Regions from separate parts of the Homo sapiens genome. Here region 1 is linked to region 2. A link means that fine-mapping ties the variant in region 2 to the expression of a gene that starts in the linked region. Tissue or cell type: nasal epithelium. Region 2 holds a variant in brackets; the other region holds the start of a gene. All regions are shown on one strand. Distances are from middle to middle.

Evidence for each region. PIP is the estimated chance that this variant, and not a neighbour inherited with it, causes the effect.
Region 1: UNC93A starts here. The variant in region 2 is fine-mapped to the expression of UNC93A in nasal epithelium (TOPMed, PIP 0.99).

Annotation. Positions count from the first base shown.
Region 1 is chr6:167,289,785-167,292,401 of GRCh38, forward strand. It overlaps UNC93A (unc-93 homolog A), which reads left to right and starts at 1,531. Exons shown (of 8, transcript NM_018974.4): 1 at 1,531-1,792. The coding sequence starts at 1,706.
Region 2 is chr6:167,268,653-167,271,415 of GRCh38, forward strand. It overlaps a transcript of UNC93A not described here. Among named protein-coding and RNA genes, the nearest start is that of UNC93A, 21 kb to the right of the region's middle. RefSeq lists an enhancer at 1-197. The variant G/T (reference allele first, on the strand shown) is at 1,127.

The DNA of each region.
Region 1 (2,617 bases), 21 kb after region 2:
AGAACTGAAGTAAACTAAAGTGTTGCCAAAAAATAAAAATAAGGTCCAAGTTGATTGATCGATAACACGGTTAGTATGAAGAAGTCCACATTATGCTAATTTCTTTACATATTATTCTAATTTGTATTGTCTCTGAAAGTCAAAATATCATCTTAGTCAATTAACATTTATTGGTGATAACATTTATTGGTGAAGTTGAACCATATATGTATCTTGAAGTTAACATTTTTGCTATATATCGGGTGCTGTTCTAGGGGCTTTCAAAATTATCCAAGTCTTGAACTTTTGCAACCCTCCTTTTTAAAGAGGAAACAGGTTCGGTGACTCAGTGACCCACCTGAGATCACCTAGCTAACAAATTACAGGATTAGGGTGTGAACCCGTGGAGCTCATCTGTTTCCATGCTCAGAATCCCTTTGCTAGACTGCGTGGCTCTTATGTCTATGTAAGCATGATAGTCCATGTTTAGTTAATATAAAAAGCTATTGTTTTCATAAAACTTTCATTTTCACTGAAATACATTAAGTGACAAGAACTTTACCCCATTTATCATTGGCCCTGATCTTCTGATGGTCTGGCAAGCTTCCCTGAGTAGTGTTGCCAGGATGCTAGACTTACCTGCGAGATTTGCCTTATAGATCTAATCTAGACAGAAATGGCTGACTTCACAGAACTTTGGAAACAATCTGCAGACATCAAGTTTTACTTATAATTGAATAAAAATAATTTTTCTTGCTTATTAGCTATGACATTTGTGGTAAGTTGCTTAAAGCTCCAGACTTACCCCGTCTAATACAGTTGTCTCTAGCCACATGTGGTTAAATTTTAATTGTAATTAACTAAAAGGAGATGCAGTTGTGAACTCATTTTATCAGTTGCACTTGCCACATTTCAGAACTCAATAGTCACATGTGGCGAGTGGCTACCATACTGGACAACACTGCCCCAGACCAAAATACCAAATCATTTAACTTTTCTGAAGCTGTTTCCTGTCTTATAATGGGTCTAAGATTTCTAATGATCATTAGCATAGCACTATTGTTGGTAACATGAAATAATGCATGAAATTCTTTGCATATTGTAAAGTACTATACTCATGTAAGTTGTTTTTTCTTTTAATAATTGCTGTACTGTGTTGTGAAACTGTACAGTCTTTGCAATACTAAGACTTTGGCCCCAGGATCTTACAATCACGTTAGCTCTTTTTCAGAAGTTGAACTATGTGTCTTGAAGTTGACATTTATGCTTTGTTCTTTAAGACTGAAGTCCTCATTCTGCACCACTGACAACTTCTGACAGTTTCTCTTACTGTGGAAGGTTCTATTCTATATACACATAAAAAGTGAAACATATCACTTTACCATCTGGACCATGTCTATTAGAATTTAATAGGAAAAAAGCGCAATTAACTAGAAGCTGGTAAGAGTAATGATCTTTTGCCCCATACAAAGTGGACATTGTGGATCACAGAGAAGGTAAATGAGTAACAGAGCTCCCGTATGCTTCATGGGGTCAGTGATAACCAAGTTCATTAACGAGTGACAGTCTTAATGACTAACACACCTCTAACATTTCACCTCTAGCTCAGATGAGAGAGAGAATGGGACTTCTTGGTACTGATTGTTTTTCCCATGCCTCAATTGGTTTCTTTTAGGGAGCTACAAATTTACGTGTTCACTGGTGATTGATCTTTTCATCCAGCACAATGGACAGAAGTCTAAGGAACGTCCTTGTGGTTTCCTTTGGGTTCCTGCTTCTCTTTACAGCCTATGGAGGTCTGCAGAGCCTGCAGGTATGTGTGTCCGGTCATCAAATTACCTGAACTTCTTGGCCTCCAAGAATCCCTGTGGTCACAGACAATAATGAATTGGAAATTTGAAAAATCTAATTCACCTGGTGTTTCTTTTTCACTCTGTACCAAATCCTCTAAAACAAACAGTGGTTCTCAGATGCAGTCCTACAGTGAGCAGTTCCCACTCACGTCTCAATAGGATTGCACAACAGCGAGGTGCACGTTGCTCTTGGACAAGGACAGCAGGGGTCTTGGGACTGTGATTTGTTGGGACATTCTTTGCCTTTGGGTGGTTAAAAGGAGACACAGGAAAAGTCATTGTGAATTCTATGATTGATTGGATGCCCTTGGCTTTGTGGTTAGGGGCAGCCATGTGAATTTATCAAATGTCACTAGACCTTATACATTCCAAGCCTACTCTAAGCTAAACTGTGAACTTTGACAACATGATCTCTCTATACTTTGAACTCCTTATGGCATGCTCTCCTCCATAGTTCCGTGAGCCCATGAAAAAGCCAAACGGCATTCTCCGAAAGGCTGCAGCATTCATCATGTGCACCTAGACATAGACCTGACACATTTTCCCAAGCTGGTTACATTTCAAGTCTGATCTTTACCTGGATTCCAGTCTGAATTCCAGGGAATTCCAAGGGCTGGTCAGGAAGCAGGGCTATTGTTACTCCCCCGGCTTATTCATTGCCACAGTGTTGTACCCTGTGGCCTGGTGTGGTCACATAAAACATTTCAGAGCTTCTGATGACAAATTAGTGTGGTCTTACATGGTTCGTCAATGAAGAATAAGAATTGGGCACCTACTGTGTGCAT
Region 2 (2,763 bases):
AAATAGTAATAATAATAATAATAATGGTAATAATAATAATAAAGCTGCATGGCCCCCAAAGGGTCGTGTCCAGCTCTGGATAAACTTGTCTGGTTAGTTCAGGTTTCATGGCGCGGCATAGAGGACCCCGACCGTTCATCACTCATTGCTGTGTCCCCAGTTGGCTGTGGCCTGAAACTGCCTGGTTTCAGTCAACACTGTTGCCGTCTTGCATCAGCCATTCAGGGGGTGGGTACCCATGGGAGGGCCTCAGCCAGGACAAAGGTCCACTTCTGTCTAATCGTGTAACTTTAAAATAAAGCTTTTGTGCAGGGACAGAGTAAACAAACTTTAAATGTGAATTTGCATCAATTGAACATTTACAAGTGTGACACTTTTACCTGGTGGCCCACTGGGACCAGGACGAAGCAGCTGGAGGGGCCCCAATGTGTGACTGAGAGAGGAATGTGTGGGCAGCCGTAGCGAGGCTGAGAGGTGAGCAGGCTGGGAAAACCCAGCGAGATGAGCGTGGCTGGAGACCGGCGGAACAGGCAGGCTGTGCAGGGCTTGCATGGGCGAGTGAGGCGCCCGTGCTGGCCAGAACATCATGGCTCTGTGCTGAGGGAACCACGGTGAGCGACGCCCAGAGACCCAGTCTTGGATCAGGAGCTGTAGTGGATACAGTTGAGGGAGTTTTGTGTAGTGCCTCACTGTTCTGATAAGAAGAAAACATGTACAAGCTACGAACTGCAAATTGAGAAATTTTGGTGATTTTGCAAATGAGATAAATGGTCCTATATTTGCATTTGAAATTGGCATTGCACAAAATAAGTTGACTAATAATTTTTAATTTTCCTTCTTAGAATGACAATGTGGCAAATAAAGGAACCCAATGAAAAGAAGGGAAAGAGACTGCAGAGGGAAGGAAAAAGCTTTATATTTTACTACCATAATGGCACTTTTTAAAAAATTTTTATTTATTTATTTATTTTTGAGACAGAGTCTTGCTCTGTCGCCCAGGCTAGAGTGCAGTGGCACAATCTCGGCTCACTGCCAGCTCCGCCTCCTGGGTTCACACCATTCTCCTGCCTCAGCCTTCCCAGTAGCTGGGACTACAGGCGCCCACCACCACGCCTGGCTTTTTTTT[G/T]TGTGTGTGTGTGTTTTTAGTAGAGACAGGGTTTCACCGTGTTGGCCAGGATGGTCTCTATCTCCTGACCTCGTGATCCACCTGCCTCGGTCTCCCAAAGTGCTGGGATTACAGGCGTGAGCCACTGGGCCCGGCCAATAATGGCACTTTTTCCTGCTTTTTGTACAGGGGGTCCTGCATTTGTGTTTTGTCCTGGGCCCCTAAATTCTGCAGCTGGCCCTGGTAGAAAGCTGAGAAGTCAGAACAAAGGACTGCCCAGAGGCTGCACGGGGTGGGGGTGGGGGTGGGGGGGGGGCGTTCACATGGTCCGGAGTCCCCACCCCACCGCGTTTATATCTGGCACACTCTGGAGGACCCATCCATCTGTGTTCATGTCTGGCTGTGGCATCTATTGACCATGGGCTCTCAAAGTCACCTAATCATTTTGCATCTCTCTTTTTTCATGTCTAAGACAGGGATAATGATGGCACATACCTGTTAATGGCTGTTGTGAAGCTCTGTGTTAAGTTCTTAAGACAGAACTTGTCACAAGTCAGCCAGGCGTCATAATCACCGATGCCATCTCTTAACAAACTGGCCTTAACTATGAGCAGAGGGTGCAATGCGGAGGGCTGTGGGGTGCCCAGAGGTGAACAAGATGAGTGCTGTTGTCAGGGAGCTTTCAGTGGGATGAGGGAGCAGGGCCCCATCACGAAGGACATGGGGGGTTAGGGGAAAGGGGAGCCTTCCGGTGTGGGGGACATGGACAGACCTTCGGAGGAGAAAGGGTTGTGGGTTGAGTTGCATCCCCCGGAAAGGTATGTTGAAGCCCTAACCTGGTGCCTGTGAACGAGCCCTCACTTGCAGAACTGATCAAGTTGAGCTGGGGTCAACTAGAGCAGGGTGAGCCTCGAGTTCCATGTGACCAATGTCCTCATGGGAGGAGAGGGGAGCACGGGGAGAAGGTGACCACTTGAGGACGAAGGCAGAGGTTGGGGTGACGCGTCTACAAACGAGGGTTTCCCCGAACACCAGAGCTAAGAGCAAGGCATTGGCGCCCTCCCGCTGTGGAGTCTGCAGAGGGAGCCTGGCCCGGCTGACACCGTGGGTGCAGACTCCCGGCCTCCAGGCTGGGGGACAAGAAGTTCCTGTTGTGGCGACCTCAAGAAACTAACACAAAGGGGCATTTGAATTCAGTTGTCCAGGAAGATACAGGTGTTGCAGGGATGGGCTGCCACGTGGGCGGAGGCCTGGATGGGAAGGATTGTGCCAGGCATGGGTTCCCGCAGTGTGTTCCCCTGGCTGGCAGCGTCGCGGCACCTGGGAGTCATTAGGCAGCAAGGGAGGGAATTGCGATTCTGGGCGGGGCTCAGCTGTGCAGATTTTAGCAAGGTCTCCAGGTGCTTCTGCTGAGGGCCAGAGTTAAGACAGAGCTTAAGACAGAGAACCTCAACAGGAGGCCTGAAGGAAAGCACCTGGGAGTCATTAGGCAGCAAGGGAGGGAATTGCAATTCTGGGCGGGGCTCAGCTGTGCAGAGTTTAGCAAGGTCTCCAGGTGCTTCTGCTGAGGGCCAGAGTTAAGAAAGAGCGAGAACCTCATCAGGAGGACTGAAGGAAAGGAGCCAGGCTGCAGCCCTCTGCCTGCCCTTCCGTGCCAT